Regions from separate parts of the Homo sapiens genome. Here region 2 is linked to region 1. The links come from fine-mapping of genetic effects on gene expression. Tissue or cell type: cerebellar hemisphere. Region 1 holds a variant in brackets; the other region holds the start of a gene. All regions are shown on one strand. Distances are between the middles of the regions.

Evidence for each region. PIP is the estimated chance that this variant, and not a neighbour inherited with it, causes the effect.
Region 2: it holds the start of MAILR, and the variant in region 1 is fine-mapped to the expression of MAILR in cerebellar hemisphere (GTEx, PIP above 0.99).

Annotation. Positions count from the first base shown.
Region 1 is chr8:102,777,880-102,785,979 of GRCh38, reverse strand. It overlaps LOC124901999 (a long non-coding RNA gene), which reads left to right. Exons shown (of 2, transcript XR_007061040.1): 2 at 6,065-8,100. Among named protein-coding and RNA genes, the nearest start is that of GASAL1, 25 kb to the left of the region's middle. RefSeq lists enhancers at 2,731-3,231, 3,910-4,409. The variant TG/G (reference allele first, on the strand shown) is at 4,275.
Region 2 is chr8:102,859,715-102,867,814 of GRCh38, reverse strand. It overlaps MAILR (macrophage interferon regulatory lncRNA), which reads right to left and starts at 3,544. Exons shown (of 3, transcript NR_126339.1): 1 at 3,192-3,544. It overlaps AZIN1 (antizyme inhibitor 1), which reads left to right and starts at 3,652. Exons shown (of 12, transcript NM_148174.4): 1 at 3,652-4,008. RefSeq lists enhancers at 2,574-3,306, 4,775-5,508 and silencers at 3,186-3,535, 4,196-4,425.

The DNA of each region.
Region 1 (8,100 bases):
TGAGACAGAGTCTTGCTCTGTTGCCCAGGCTGGAGTGCAGTGGCGTGAAGCTAAACTCTTTTGAACCTACTTGTGTTTTGATCTCTCAATTTGGAATAATGAACTTTTATAAGGAGATAATCCTAGAGATGGGCAGAGGGTACTAGTCTGGAGCTCCAGGGCCTCTAGGTCTTTTGGTCCTTGAACAGGGCTCCTTAGGAGCAGGTCTGTTAACAGTCCCAGGCAACTCTCCAGCAGGAAGGTGGGATCCCTCCCTGTCTGTGTCGTCTCATATCACCCAGGTACAGCTGCACATGAGGGAGGGATGTCGAAGCTGCTGGGGTTCATTTTGTTTTGTTTGTTTGTTTGTTTTTAGACAGGGTGTTCTGTCACCCAGGCTGGAGTGCAGTGGCGAGATCTCAGTTCATTGCAACCTCCACTTCCTGGGCTCAGGTGATCCTCCCACCTCAGCCTCCCACGTAGCTGGGACTACAGGTGTGTGCCACCATGCCCAGCTACTTTTTGTATTCTTTGTAGAGACGGGGTTTTGCCATGTTGCCAGGCTTGTCTCAAACTCCTGGTCTCAAGCAATCCTCCTGCCTCAGCCTCCCAAAGTGCTGGTATTACAGGCGTGAGCTGCTGTGCCCAGCCAAAGCTACTGTTTCAACTGCTGGAGAAGAGGACATTTAGCCAGTGGTGGCATCATCCATGCACGGACTGGAAGACTTCTCCACTGTGGGAAGAGAGGTCTCAATATGTCATGTGATCCTCAATACACTCTCTGCTCCTGTTGGCAGGCAGTGAGGGGGGTTTTGCAGGAGACTTAGGGGGGTAGCAAATGCTGGCAGGACAGCAAGGGCCTGGTGACTCCCTGGCAGCATCAGCAGCACTCATGGACTTGTTGGAAATGCGGAATCTCAGACCCGACCCAGACTTAGGGAATCTGTCTGTCGTAAGCAGATTCCAGGTGATTTGGGTACAAAGCAGAGGTTGAGGAGCACTCAGCTAGAACAAGGCCCATTGCCTGGCATTGATTTAACGGACTTGTGTTGAATTAGTTAACAGAGCTGAACTGACCTTGCTGTTTCCGAATTTTGTTGGCTCCACTGCCCTGGAGAACCTCTCTCTGAAACATAAATCTGCCAAATGGCTTCCAAGCCTTATTAGCCCAAATGAATCCCCTCTAATGCAGTGGGTATTCTGAAAGCTGAGAGTGAAATGCGTTCCACATGCCTGATCTTTGGGGGAGCCACCTTTGGGGCTGGGGAGTGAGAACCTCCTTTCAAAGCCAGCTCTGAAGCTTGGCTCTGCATGTGTGGCCACTTATCCTGCCACACCTGAGAGGCCCTGTGTCCTGCCCCATGGGGAATGGTTGCAGTATCTCCGCCCTCACCTGTGGCTTCTCCACACCCAAAGCCTGGTAAAGAGGTGATCCTTCTCAGAATTTGCCAAAGAAAGCCAGCAGTCCATGGCTGATATCAAAAAAGCATTAGGGCTGGGTGCAATGGCTCACACTGGTAATCCCAGCACCTTGGGAGACCAGGGCAAGTGGATCACCTGAGTTCAGGAGTTCGAGACCAGCCAGGCCAACATGGCGAAACCCCGTCTCTACTAAAAATACAAAAATTAGCTGGACGTGGTGGTGCGCACCTGTAGTCCCAACTACTTGGGAAGCTGAGGCAGGAGAATCGCTTGAACCTGGAAGGCGGAGGTTGCAGTGAGCCGAGATCGTGCCACTGCACTCCAGCCTGGGCGACAGAGTGAGACTCTGTCTCAAAAAAAAAAAAAAAAAGCGTTAGATCCTGCTCTCAAAAGCCTTAAAGAAACATATCATCACACACTTAGAAAGTGGTATTAGTGAGCCTACAACATCTGTACAACAACAGCTCTTTCAAATAATATTCCTAAGAGATTGCTCATTTTTTTAAAGTGCAAAATAGAATTATAGTCCTCTCTTGGCTGGGCGTGGTGACTCACTCCTGTAATCCCAGTGCTTTGAGGGGCTGAAGTGGGAGGATTGCTAGATGCCAGGAGTTTGAGAGCAGCCTGGGCAACATAGGGAGACCCCATCTCTATAAAAACTTTAAAAATTAGCTGGGCGTGGTTGTGCATACCTGTAGTCCCAGCTACTTGGGAGGCTGAGGCAGGAGGATCACTTGAGCCTAGGAGTTAGAGGCTGCAGTAAGCTATAATCACACCACTGCACTCCAGCCTGGGTGACAGAGTGAGATCCTGGCTCAAAAAAGAAAAAAAAAAAAAAAAAAGAATTGCAGTCCTCTCTCATTTTTAAAATAAAAATATATCTATGTTCATAGAAAAAATAATGTCTAGAGGGGTATTTTCCAAATTCTGTGGTGTCAATGCGCCCCAGCCAGAGACCACCAGGACCACACGTGGAGTTGGGTTTACCAGCTTATTGCAGTTTGGAAGCACGCACACCATGGGAACCGTGGGGTGTCCCAGTAAGAGGAGCAGGAAAGGACTCATAATAAGATGTGGGCCTGGGGTAGGTAGCTGGAAGCTTGGGGATGGTGCAAGGAAGCAGATCTTTGCTCTGGATTGGATGAGATGAGTGTCTAATAGTTCTTATGGAGATGAATTGACTGAGGCTATAAATTGGTAGAAACAACAACCACACACAAAAACAAAGAAAATAGTCACCCATTAGCCAGGATAGGGGGATGGTGGGTTATTTTTGTGGTTTGGACTGTGCTCTTGTTTTTGTTTCGATCTTCACAGTCACAGTGGCCTTGGCTGGTGCTGGTGCTCTGAGACGCTGATTGTGCTCAATGGGACATCAAGCCCCAGCTGTGACAACCAGGTCAGCTGCTGGTTCTCCAGTTCTCAACTGGCGTCACCTTTGGGTGTTGAGATTAAGGGCGATTTTCATTTTCTACTTCATGTTTTTTTTGGGGAAAATAGTGTGTTACATTTGCCTTTAGAAAACAAGCAATTTCTTTTTTAGAAAAAGATTACCTATATAAGAAAATGCTGAACAGGATAAACCATGTGCCAATACAGTTAGGCAGGAGGAGCAGACAGCCCAGCACAGAGTCCCCTGAGAACATGTCACAAAAGGCCACCCAGGTCATGCAGAACAGCTCCACTCAGACGCTTTCCCAGGAGGGAGGCTGGGCGTGCCCATATTTAAGTTTAGATTGGATGGAAATTGATGTTGCTCAAGACCTCACCCCAGGGTCCAGGTGGCGAGAAGCATGGCTGGCTTGTCTACACTGGGTGGAGGCCACCTGGACACCTGCGTGGTGAGGCTCCCAGATAAGAGGCCATGGCATGGCCTGGAGCTCCGGCTCTCAGCTTTGCAGCCTATTGAAATCACCTGGCTGTTTTGAATGTCTTTCCCCAGTGCTCAGCTACCTGTACCGATCAAATAGGGATCCCTGGTGGTGGGGAGCTCATTCCCAGCATTCCTTTAGCTCCCCAGGTGATTCCTCCAGCTTTTCTTGTTCTGCCTTTACCCAGCTCCCTTATTTATTCTGCTTCTGAGTCTCTACCTCCTCTTTTCCACTCCCATCATCTTCTGGATCCTCACAGCTCTCCTCCAAATCACCTCTGTCCCTCCACACACCCAGACTGATCCATGTAAATAAAAATCAAAGTCACTGGTTCTCAACCCTGGCTGCATATTTAGAATCACCAGGGGAATTTTAAAAAACACAGTGCCTGGGCCCCACCCTCAAAGTTTCTGATGCCATTGGGCTGGGGGTGGGACCCAGGCGTTGATATTTATAAAATGTTTCCCAGGGGATTTTACTGGGCAGCCAGGATTGAGAAACACAGCTTTAGGTATTTTAACTCCCCAGCCCAGCAGGGAGTAAGTCAAGGAGCTAACCCTGTAAACTGAAGCCTAGGAGTTTTTTTGTTTTTCAGATAGGGTCTTGCTATGTTGCACAGGCTGGTCTCGAATTGGCCTCAGGGGATCCTCCCACCTCAGCCTCCTGAGTAGCTGGGCACAAAAGTTCTTTAGGGTTCCTTTAGGGGAGTGTGCCACAAAGGGGAATACTCTGTACCCCGCTTTGCCACAGAAGACTGCATAGCTCTGTCTGTTCATGTATAGGCAGCCAGGTAGAGTGGTGGGGGAAGAGTTTGACAGGTACTGCGGAAGTACATGAGCTGGTCCCTGGCAGAAGAGGAGAGGGGGAAAAAGATAGGAATTGTGTCTTGGCTGCTGTCCTGACATATTCAAGGGGAACTCTGCAGAGGACTGGCTCCTGCAGAAGCAGATGGGGGCAAGAGCCAGGAAACAGCACACATCAAGACTTGTTGGCACAGATCTC[TG/G]AGCCAAGCAGGCTGCAATGGACGCTAGTGTCCCACCCAGACCCTCTGCACGACCCAGGACCTCCATCCCCAGTAGCAGGAAGTGTGGCCTGCTAACTGCTCATAGCTGAGTCCCTCCCCAGACGCTGCCCTCAGCCGAAGGGAGCTGCCTGGTCCAAGGCCATGGGCCCCGTGCCACCTGCATACAATAATTGTTGATGAGGGGGTACACAGACCTGGCCCCTTGCATTATTTTGGGACATCCGGGCTTCTGAGCTCTCCACAGGACCAGTTGAGGTCTCTGTTGCAAATGCATCTCAGTTCAGCCTCTGCCCTACCCAATCCTGCTTCATTGACTTCCCTGCAGGCGTAGCTCTAGCTATCTCCCTAGTAAGCCCCATGTAAGTCTGCCTCAGAGCCTGTTTCCTGACCTATGAGCAAGACTCTTAAATGTATGTGGGTGAAAAATGAACAGGCCAGGAAGGTGTGTAGGGGGATTGCATTACAGCTGCTTTGTGGGTCTTATGGAACATTTGCAGGCTCAAAGGACATGGAAACAGAAAATCTGATCGTATCACTCCCCCGCTTAAAATTCATCAGTGACTCCCGGCTGCCCAGGGGATGGCTTCTGAGCTCTTCATCATGATTTGAGTGCTTTTTTGTTATCTGGCCTGACCACCACTGTGGGTACCCACTCTTCTCCCTTGCTCTCCAGGTAATCAAAACTCTCTGCAGTTTTCCATCCTCCCACCCTCCCTGAGGCTGTCTCCTACCCCTGCCTACACAAGCGCTTGATGTTCCTGGAGAGCCCTCCCCTCTTCCTCACTGGGTCACTCGCATCCCCTCATCATTGAAATCATCTGTCTACTTGTTCTCTTCTAGCTGGTACATTCAGTGAGGCCCAGGGCCAGGTCTGGTCATCTGCTCCCCCAGGGCCCAGCACAGTGGTCAGCCCCTAATGAATCTTGTAGGATAAATGAATAAATGAATGGGAAGGGTGCAGTCTTTGAAGTGCCTTCACTTTCTGGGTATGTGATCTTGTGCAAGTGACTTAACCTCTCAGCCTCATATATAAAGAGGAGAAAATAATACACCTTATAAGGCTCCTGGAAGAATGAACCAAAAGAGACGACCTTGAGAAAATGCCCACCACAGTGGCTGTTAGGGAGCAGATGCCGCCGTCATGGTGGAATCACTACAATGTAATCTGGTTTCCATCCATTGAGATCAAGATTCCCTGATGGGTTGTGAATGTGGACAGAGTGGAATTTTTATTTATAGTCAGCTCTGATGCAAAGAGAGCAGGATGTTAGATGATGCTCATGCTGACATGTAGTGATCACTCACATTAGGTGCATGACAGTGGTAAAATGTATAGGGGTGCACAATAACACCATTTTAGGTGCATTCATCTTTTTTTTTTTTTTTTTGAGATGGAGTCTCGCTCTGTCACCAGGCAACTGTTGCTCACTGCAACCTCCGCCTCCCGGGTTCAAACAATTCTCCTGAGTAGCCTCCCGAGTAGCTGGGATTACAGGCATGTGCCACCACTCCCGGCTAATTTTTTGTATTAGTAGAGACAGGGTTTCACCATGTTGGCCAGGCTGGTCTCAAACTCCCGACCTCAGGTGATCCACCCACCTTGGCCTCCCAAAGTTCTGGGATTACAGGCATGAGCCACCGCGCGGGGCCCGCATTAGTCTTTTTAAATTCTCACAAAAGCCTAGGAGCATACAGGTTAAAGCCACTCCTTTAAGGACAGAGCCAGGACTCCAGATCCAGTGGCTTCTGCCATTTTCTGTATCACCAGGTTCCAGTGACTCTGCTGTCCACTACACCCCACCACTGCAGCCCATCACTCAAGAGTGCCACAGCCTGTGGCAGGGACTGTCTTTCGGGGATGAAGTTTCCACTGCTTGAAAGCAGGTGTGTTTTCATTGATCCTCAAGAAATTAGGTAGTAATGGAGTGCCATGCTGTGTGCAGTACAATGTTGGGAACCGTGGGCTCTACTAATAGGGATGGACACCTGCCAGGTGGAACTTTGAGGGGTGGTGTTCTCAGCACTTCGCCTGCACAGCAAATGTCCAGGCCCCAACAGGATCCCACAACATGCAGCCAGCCCACCCCGAGCCAGGTGCTGTGTGGGTTGAGGAATCCCTCCCGCGATAGCTCCCCTGTGGAGGACTGGAAGGGAAGCAGTACTCACTGCGGGTCTACGGTGTGCAGAGAACTTTTGCTTGTCTTCCCAGCAGTCTTGAGTGGTGGGCGTGACTGCCCACTCCGTCTTCCAGATTTGGAAGCAGATGGAGAGCCAAGGAGCTTTGTTCTGCCCCATTTTCAGCTTGGAGCTGGGCCCCGCCTGCCCTCCCAGGACAGATGGTGTACCGCAAGGATGAAGGTGGGGTGGGGACCGGACTCTGGAGACAACTTAGACTTTCCTTGTCAACACCTGGCCTTTAGGGCATGGCGGTGGAAGACTCATTTATTCACTCATTCATTCATTCATCCGAAACTTTTTTTGTTGTGGTAAATTACACATAACATAAAATTCACCGTCTTAACCATTTTAAAGTGTGCAATTCAGTGGCATTTAGTACATTTACAATGTCGTGCAGCCATCACCACTGTCTAGTTCCAGAATATCTTCCTCCCCAGAGGAAACCCTGTATCTGTGAAGTAGTCACTCCCCATTCCCCTCTCCTCCCAGGGCCTGGCAACCACTACTTTACTTTTTGTCCCTATGGACTTGCCTGTCCTGGATATTTTATATAAGTGGAATCATACAACATGTGGCCTTCTGCATCTGGCTTCTTTTACAGCATAATTCTTGTCATAGCATGTATCAGTACTTCATTCCTTTTCATGACTAAATAATACTTCATTGTATGGAAGTACCAGATTTTGTTTGTCCATTCACTGTTTGATGGACATTTTGGGTTGTTTCCACCTTTTGGCTGTTATGAATAATGCCGCTATGAGCTTTCATGTGCAAGTTTTTGTTTGAACACTTGTTTTCCTTTCTCTTGGGTCTATATTTAGGGGTGGCATTGATGGCTTTTGTGTGAACTATACATTTAACATATGAGGAACCGCCACACTGTTTTCCAAAGTGGCTGCATCATTTTACATTCCCACCAGCAATGAGGGCTCTAATTTTTCTACATCCTCGCCAACACTTGTTATTTTTTCTTTTCTTTCTTTTTTTTGTTATGTCGCCCAGGCTGGAGTGCAGTGACTACTCACAGGTGAGATTATGGCATACTGAAGTCTTGAACTCCTGGGTTCAAGCAATCCTCCTGCCTCAGCCTCCCAAGTAGCTGGGACTGCAGGCCTGCAGCACCACACCTGGCTACTTGGTGTCTTTTTGATGATAGCCATCCTAGTAATGTGAAGTGTTATCATTGTAGTTGTTTGATACATACTTTTGACCTTTACTGTGTTCCAGGCACCACGGTAGTCACTAGGAAGATGGCAGAGAACAAAATAGACAAAGCCCTTCCCTTCTGGAAGTTCTATTCTAGTGAGAAATGCTCTAGTAGAGTGGAGTTAAGAGGCCAGGCAGCAGGGACATGAATACAACTCGCTGCAGCTGGGAAAGCCGAAAGGCGTATGCTTTAGGCTCTGCTATTTCTCTTCATCCTGGAAGAATGGAGCAGAGTTTACAAACTCAAAGTCGATGTACAGGACACGGCCAGAGTGATGAGTGTGCACGCAGCATGTGTGCATGGTTGGATTGGAGGGCGCCAGCCTTGCCTCAAGGGCAGATGCTCCATAGTACCGGCTTCTTACTACTGACTGGTAAAGTAGACTTGGTCTTGCCTGTGCTCTGGATGAAAATAAAATT
Region 2 (8,100 bases), 82 kb before region 1:
ATAGCATTGCACTATTGTCATTTTCTTCGGCCTCTTGGTCTTCTCTGCGGCTGTCTTTTATCTCTGGCATTCTCTAGATCCTGTGCTTATACTCTTTTCTTCTATACCTCAATAATTCCTTAATTATCATGTCTGTAGGAAAGGCTCCCAAATTCACACCCAAAGGGTTCTAGATCTCCCCATTTTCAGAGGCCTCTGGACCATTTTTACCTGGCTATTTCTTCAACAGCTAAAACTCTGTATCACAGCAGCCTCAGGCCTGGTGTGATGGCTCATGCCTATAATCCCAGCATTTTGCGAGGCCTAAGTATGTGGATCACTTGAGTCCAGGAGGTCAAAACCAACCTGGGCAACATGGCAAGACCTGTCTTCACAAAAAATTAGCCAGGCATGGTGGTGCACCAGTAGTTCCAGCTACTCAGAGGCTGAGGTGGGATGATCACTTGGTCCCAGGAGGTGGAGGTTGCAGTGAGACGAGACTATGCCTCTCCACTTCAGCCTGAGCAACAGAGTGACACACTGTCACATACACACACAAAAGGCAAAAAAACCTAGCCTCATCTTACTCCCTCTTTTTTTTTTTTTTTTTTTTTTTTTGAGATGGAGTCTCGCTCTGTCGCCCAGGCTGGAGTGCAGTGGCACCATCTCGGCTCACTGCAAGCTACGCCTCCCAGGTTCATGCCATTCTCCTGCCTCAGCCTCCCAAGTAGCTGGGACTACAGGGCACATGCCACCATGCCCAGCTAATTTTTGTATTTTTAGTAGAGACGGGGTTTCGTCATGTTGGCCAGGGTGGTCTTGATCTCTTGACTTCGTGACCCGCCTGCCTCAGCCTCCCAAAGTGCTGGGATTACAGGCGTGAGCCACTGCTCCTGGCAGGGTCCTTCTATTTCTATCTCTGTTTATGGCTCCAGAATTCTCCCTGTTGATAAGCTTAATATCCCCAAATCACTTGACACCTTCTCATCTCCTTTGAAAGTCAAGATTATCTCTACTCTCTCTGTGCGTTTTCCCTCCCATCCATTCTGAATCCCCTTAGTACTTTCATTATTATTATTATTATTTGAGACAAAGTACATCTCTGTTGCACAGGCTGGAGTGCAGTGGTGCGATCTCAGCTCACTGCAACCTCTGCCTCCCGGGTTCAAGCAATTCTCCTGCCACCGCCTCCCAAGTAGCTGGGACTACATGCGTGTACCAGCACGCCTGGTTAATTTTTGTAGTTTTAGCAGAGACAGGGTTTTGCTATGTTGGGCAGACTGGTTTCAAACTACTGGCCTCAAGTGATCCGTCCGCCTCAGCCTCCCAAAGTGCTAGGCCACCACACCATCACTAGGCCACCAAGTGAGCAACCACGCCCGGCCCCCTTAGTACTAAAATAAATAAATAAGTAAACCAAAAGACCCCAGAAAACTGCTGTAAGAGTTTCCTTCACTTCCAAACTTTCTACCTCTTTTCAATCCCACCCACTGGTGCTGGAGTAATCTTTTAAAAAACATATTTTTGAGCATATCATGTTCCTGTTTATATGGTTCCAGAATAAAGTCCAAGTTCCAATTTTTTGTTTTGTTTTTTTTTTTTTTTTTGAGACGCAGTTTCACTCTTGTTGCCCAGACTGGAGAGTGCAATGGTGTGATCTCGGCTCACTGCAACTTCCGCCTCCCAGGTTCTAGAGATTCTCCTGCCTCAGCTTCCTGAGTAGCTGGATTACAGCCATGTGCCACCATGCCCAGCTAATTTTGTAGTTTTAGTAGAGCCGGGTTTTCTCCATGTTGGTCAGGCTGGTCTCGAATTCCCGACCTCAGGTAATCCGCCCTCCTCGGCCTCCCAAAGTGCTGGGAATACAGGTGTAAGCCACTGCGCCCAGCCTCCAATGTCTTCTTGATGTCACCCTAATCTACCGTTTCAATCTCATTTGCAACCATGCCCCTATGCTGGAACCAGAAAGGCTATTCACAATTCTCTAAACCCACCCACTTCTGTGCCTTCTCTCATCCGTTTCCCTTGCCTGGAACACTGGAACATCTACTCTCAAAATCACCAAACAGGCGAGTTTGGTGAAAAAGGAAGCACCTTTGTCTAGAAAGGCTTTTCTCAAAATCACTCTTTACCTTTCCCCAGCAGCCTTTCTCTCACTTAGCTGCAATCATCTCTTCCCTCCACTTGGTCCTTGCAGCATTTTATTTGTATCAGCCAACAATTTATTTTGTATTGCTGTCTTATTTCCCCTGCTAGATTGTAAGCAAGGTTTCAAATATTGTATTCATCTCTAGTTTTTCTTCCTCCACCAGAGAGGGTCTAGTGAATGGCTGTGTTTTCAAATGTTCTGAATAGAACAGAACTTTGAAGAAATAAAAGACAGAGCCAAGATATAGCCGAGCAAAATAAGGAAAAACAAAATCAGGAATGCGTCCACAGCTCCTGATTCTACCGAATACTCTCTCATACAGCCTCGCAAGATACCCTGCTTTTCCACACAGGAAGGTCGCTTTCTTCCTTTCACATTTGATGATTTATTAATCAACCACAGTGCTGCTCAAAGTACACAGAGGGTTCGGAAGAATGAAAGGGAAAAAAGTCAGGGTCTTAATATCAAAGATCTTAACTTCAGAGGGGTGTGTCAACACATATTCCATTTGTGCTATGTGTTGCGAAGCGTAGCAGCACGAGAGAACTCGGGGTCTCTGATCATGATCATTAGTGCTGAGGCATCTAAAAAAGATGAAAATAAATTAAAAGCTATGTAGGTAATCTTAGAACCCCTAGTAAAAAAAAGTCTGTTGTGGAGTAGAAAAATTAAAACGACCGCGAAAATGAGACCTAGGGGATTGAAGTAATGTGCGCTTGTAACATCAGTAATCCCCTCTCCAACGCGGGTCCTGCTTGGGACTGACTCCACCAATCCTTTTAAAAATGAAGACATAAAAGCCATATTCCTTTAAAAAATTTCCACTGCACCGTATTGCAACGTTCGAGCACTGAGGACATTTTCACGTGGTCACAACCCTTTTTAACACCCGGACACTGGGCCGGTCCTTTCTGGCCACGAGGAACTCGCTTCCCTAAAGGAGTACCGCATCACCGAGGGCGGGCGCCTCAGCCCGGGAGGACACTCCCCAGGGTAAACTACAGGCCTCACAAAGCGGAGGGAGCTGGACGCGAAGGCTCGGCAGCGGCGCCGACAGGCTTACCCCAGGCCCACTCTAGGCCGCACAGGGTTCGCGCCACCTCCGGCCCAGGACAGCTCTCAGACGCTGCCAGCGTGGAGCTCGACCCGGCTCACAATGCGCTGGGCCCCGCAGCGTGAGCGCAGGCGCCCGAGAGGCGGCGGGGGTCGGGCGGACGGCGCGCTCCAGCCGAGCCGCCTCCCTCTCTCGGCCCACACCCGCGCGGCCGCCCTTCGCCTGCCGGGGAGCTGCGGGTGGCTGGAGGGCGGGAAGCGACCGGCCAGTCTGCACCTGCATGACCCGGTCGCGCGCCGACCCCTCCCCTCTCTCTCCCGGGCTCAGTCCTCCTTCCTCTTCCGTCCCCCTCCCTTTTCTCCGGGCTGCAACCGGGTTCCGCCCCGCTCGCGCGGCTGCCCGGCCAGCTGTGATGTCACCAGGCCACGCCCCCTAATATAAATACTGGCGTCGCTGGCGCCGCCTTCTCACACTTTCAGGCTCTGATCGCGGCCGCAGTTTTTCCTTTTTTCTTCTGCCGTCGCCTTCTCTGCCTCTTCTCATCCTTTCTCGCTCTGCTGCTCTGCAGTGTGACGAGTCCGAATCCTCTTCCCACCCAGCCCGCGCCTTTCTTCTTTTGCCTGCGCTGTTCTATTTCTCCTTCGGCCGCCGCCGCCACTGCTGCACACAGCTGGTGTCGGTGCCGCGCTTTTACCCCCAAGTCGTTCCCGCAGCCTATGGCCCAGGCCGCCTTGGGTATTTCTGCTCAAGGTAACCACATCCCTCTTTAAAAATTCCGCCGAAAAAGAGAAGACGCTTTACCCGACTCTTTGGGCCGTTATCTCACGTGAGTACCGAGCCGAGGAGCGCGGGAGGGGCCAGGACGCGGGGCTGGCCTTGGGGGGCGGCTGGGGGGCTCCGGCTGGGCCCCGCCGCCCTTAAGACGTCCCCGCAGCGCCCCGCGGCCGGCCGCCTCGAACATGGCGGCGGCGGCTGTCTGTGCCCCCGGCGGCGGCGGCGGCGGCGGGGCTGGGCGGCGGGCCGCGCCTCAGGACCTTCGGGCGGCTGCTGGACGCTTGGCGGAGCCGGAGCCGCAGCAGTTGGGGCGAGGGGGCGTGTGCCAGTGGGGGAGCGCGCGGGGGTCTCGCCGCCGGGGGTCGCCGTCCCCTCCTGGCGGCGTGCGGCCCCCACCCCTCTCCCGTGGTGCATTGCTGTTTCCGGGGAGGGGGCCCGGCCGCAGCCCTGAGGGGCCGGGGTCCCGCAGCCCCTACTCCGCGGTGCGCCGCCGCCACCTTTGCCTCCCGAAGCCCGGCGGGCGGGCGGCGCTGTGGGCTGCAACGGCTGGGGTCCTGGTTATGAATGGAGCGGGGCGGGCCCCGCGCCGGCCTCTGGTGACAGCTGCGGAGGAAGTCGGATTCCTGGGGGGCGCGGGGAGCGCGGTCCCCCTCTGGTGGAGGAAAGTTGACGCCACTTGGGGCCTGGCGGCGGGGAAGCCCCGGTGTCAGGTAGCCAGCGAGAGGCTTTTGGCCCCTTCTGGAAGCCTCGAGGCTGCTGCTCCGCCCCTGCGGCGCTCCTGATTGGGTCAAGTCGCCTTCACTCACCCCAGTCACCTCCTGGAGCCTGAGGATTAGTCACCATGGCTTCGTTTTTCCGTCCGCGCCATGGTTCCTAGGCAGAAAGAGGGAGATTGGTAGACGGGTGGCTTATCAACTACTGTCTTGACTGCCAACAGTTGGTGGTGGTAACATGTTCTAACCCTTACACGGTATCCTGAATGTGTGTTTCGTAGACAAAGCTGCTGGTTCAGAAACCCGAAACAGTCGGGGACACAGTTTACCGCCTCATGTTTCAGCACATTTAACTGAATTTTGTGGTGGCATCTTGGTTATATTAGTTCTGTGTCCCGTCGTGTTTCTATCGTGAATTCCCAGACTGGGTGGGAATCTAAGGACTCAAAGGAGGGGGAATTGCCTTGTGCTCAGCGAAGGTTGATGTAGAGGTGCATCAAAGCACAAAGTAGAAGTACATCAAAGCACATCAAATACAGCAAGGGTTGGCAGAAACATGGCTCATGATTGTCTAGAAAGGCCCTCATAATTCATTAATTTCTTTTACATATACGAGAGCGTGCAGATGCTGATCATGATTAGAAATAAGCCCCAAGGAGTTTAGGAAAGACTCCAAAAGAAAATGATTATCGGTGGTGATAAGTGAGGTCGAGTAGTCAGTGCCTTTCTCCCCCAAGGTTTTATCACATACGTTTTCAAACAGAAGGTGAAAAAGAGTTATACTTCCACCTAGATTCTGTAATTAACATTTTACCTTATTTGTCGATGCATTTCAAAGTAAAGTTGGAGACCCCTCCAACTTTAGTATGTGCATATTAAATAGAGCTCAGTACCGCTTACTATTTTTTAAATCTTAGAGGGTAAAATTCACATCAGTATAAACCCACAAGTCTTAAGTATGCAATTTGATGAACGTTGACAAAAATACAGCTGTGTAACCTAAACCTTTTGTCAAGATGTAGAACATCGCCATCACCCTCAAAAGTTTTTTCTTGTCCTTTCAAATCGTCTTCCAGTCACCACAGAGCCAACCACGATCTTGGTTTTTTTTTTTTGGAGTCTAGCTCTGTCGCCCAGGCTGGAGTGCAGTGGCACAATCTCGGCTTACTGCAACCTCCGCTTCCCAGGTTCAAGCGATTCTCCTTCCTCAGCCTCCCGAGCAGCTGGGATTACAGGCGCCCACCACGCCCAGCTAATTTTTGTATTTTTAGTAGAAAAGGGGTTTCACTGTTGGTCAGGCTGGTCTGGAACTCCTGACCTCATGATCCGCCCATCTCGGCCTCCCAGAGTGCTGGGATTACAAGCGTGAGCCACTGCGCCCGGCTGATCTTGATTTTTTTTTTTAAACCCATAGATTATTTTCGTCTATTCCAGACTTTCCACATGAATGGAATCATACAGTATGCATTCTTTGGTATAAAAGGCTTCTTTTAACTCAGCACATTTTTAATATTCATCCCTGTTGTCTTTATCTGTAGATTATCAGTAGATTATTTGTGTTGCTGAGTAGTAGCCCATTAGGTGACTGTCCCTTGGTTGTTTTTTTTAAAAATAAACTTTATTAGGCCGGGCGCGGTGGCTCAAGCCTGTAATCCCAGCACTTTGGGAGGCTGAGGCGGGTGGATTGCCTGAGGTCAGGAGACCAGCCTGGCTAACATGCTGAAACTCCATCTCTACTAAAAATACAAAAATTAGCCGGGCGTGGTGGCTGGCTCCTGTAATCCCAGCTCCTCGGGAGGCTGAGTCAGGAGAATCGCTTGAACTGGGGAGGCAGAGGTTGCAGTGAGCCGAGATCTCACCAGGGCACTCCAGCCTGGGGGACAAGAGCAGCGGGACTTCATCTCAAAAAATAATAATAATAATGAAAAATAAACTTTATTTTGGAGTATCTTAGTTGCGCAGCAAAGTCACAAAGATACAGTTTCTTCATACTTCCCACCCAGTTATTAGTAACATCTTACGTTATTACAGTACATTTGTTAAAACTAAGAAACTGACTTTGGCACTATGAAACGTTCGAGACTTTTATTTGGATTTCGCCAATTTTTCTTTAATGTCTTTTTCTGTTCCAGAATCCAAGTTACCACATTGTATTTAGTTGTCATGTCTTCCCAGTTTTCTTTGGTTTGTGACAGTTTCTCAGTCTTCCTTTGTTTTTCATTACCATCACAGTCTAGAAAAGTGCTGCCAGATATCTGGTAGAATACTCCCCTCCCCTAAACTTGGGGTTTACCTGATGTTTTTCTCATGATTAGACTGGGGTTTGGAGTTTTTACAAAGAATACCACAGAACGATTTTAAAAATCATTGGTAAAGGCATTGTGTTTTCAGAGACGTACTGATAATTTTGAGATACTAAGTTTGTAATAGTTACTGTCAAAGTGATAGAAAGTTTTTGTAGTTGGGCACGGTGGTTTGCACCTGTAATCCCAGCACTTCGGAAGGCTGATGCAGGCGGATCACTTGAGCTCAGGAATTCAAGGCCAGCTTGAATTCCTATTTTATTTTTAAGAAAATAAAATAGGCCAGGCGTGGTGGCTCATGCCTGTAATCCCAGCACTTTGGGAGGTCGAGGTGGGTGGATCGCAAGGTCAGGAGTTCGAGACCAGCCTGGCCAATATGATGAAACCCCATCTCTACTAAAAATACAAAAAAATTAGCCGGGCATGGTGGCACATGCCTGTAATCCGAGCTACTCGGAAGGCTGAGGCAGGAGAATTGCTTGAATCTGAGAGGCAGAGGTTGCAGTGAGCCAAGATCGCGCCACTGCACTCCAGCCTGGGTGACAGAGCGAGACTCCGTCTCAAAAAAATAAAATAAAATAAATTACATAAAATGCTTCTTGTTTCTTACTGACCAACCGAGCCCTCTCTGTGCTATTCTCTAAGGTGTTAGAGAATTTGCAGTGTTTACATACACCATTCTAAGTGAAAATAATTTATTTTTTTCCATACTGCCTTTTCTCCGCATTTCCATTTAACAAGTCCTTCTTCATGCTTTTTTATCCTAACTGTCCGGATAAACATTCTATCTATCCTGTATGTAAGTGCTTATAAGAAGTGCTTATCTATCCTGTATGTGTTTATAAGAAGTGCTTATCCTATGCACCTTTTGGGTCTTGCTGTGTTGCCCAGGCTGGACTCAAATTCCTGGGCTCAAGCAGTCCTCCTGCCTTAACCTCCTCAGTAGTTGAGACTATAGGTGCATACTGTCACATCTGGCTCATTTTTTCTTTTCTTTTCTTTTTTTGGAGACAGGTTCTCCCTCTGTTGCCTGGGCTGGAGTACAGTGGCACAATCTCGGCTCACTGCAACCTCCGCCTCTTGAGTTCAAGCAATTCTTGTGCCTCAGGCTCCTGAGTAGCTGGGATT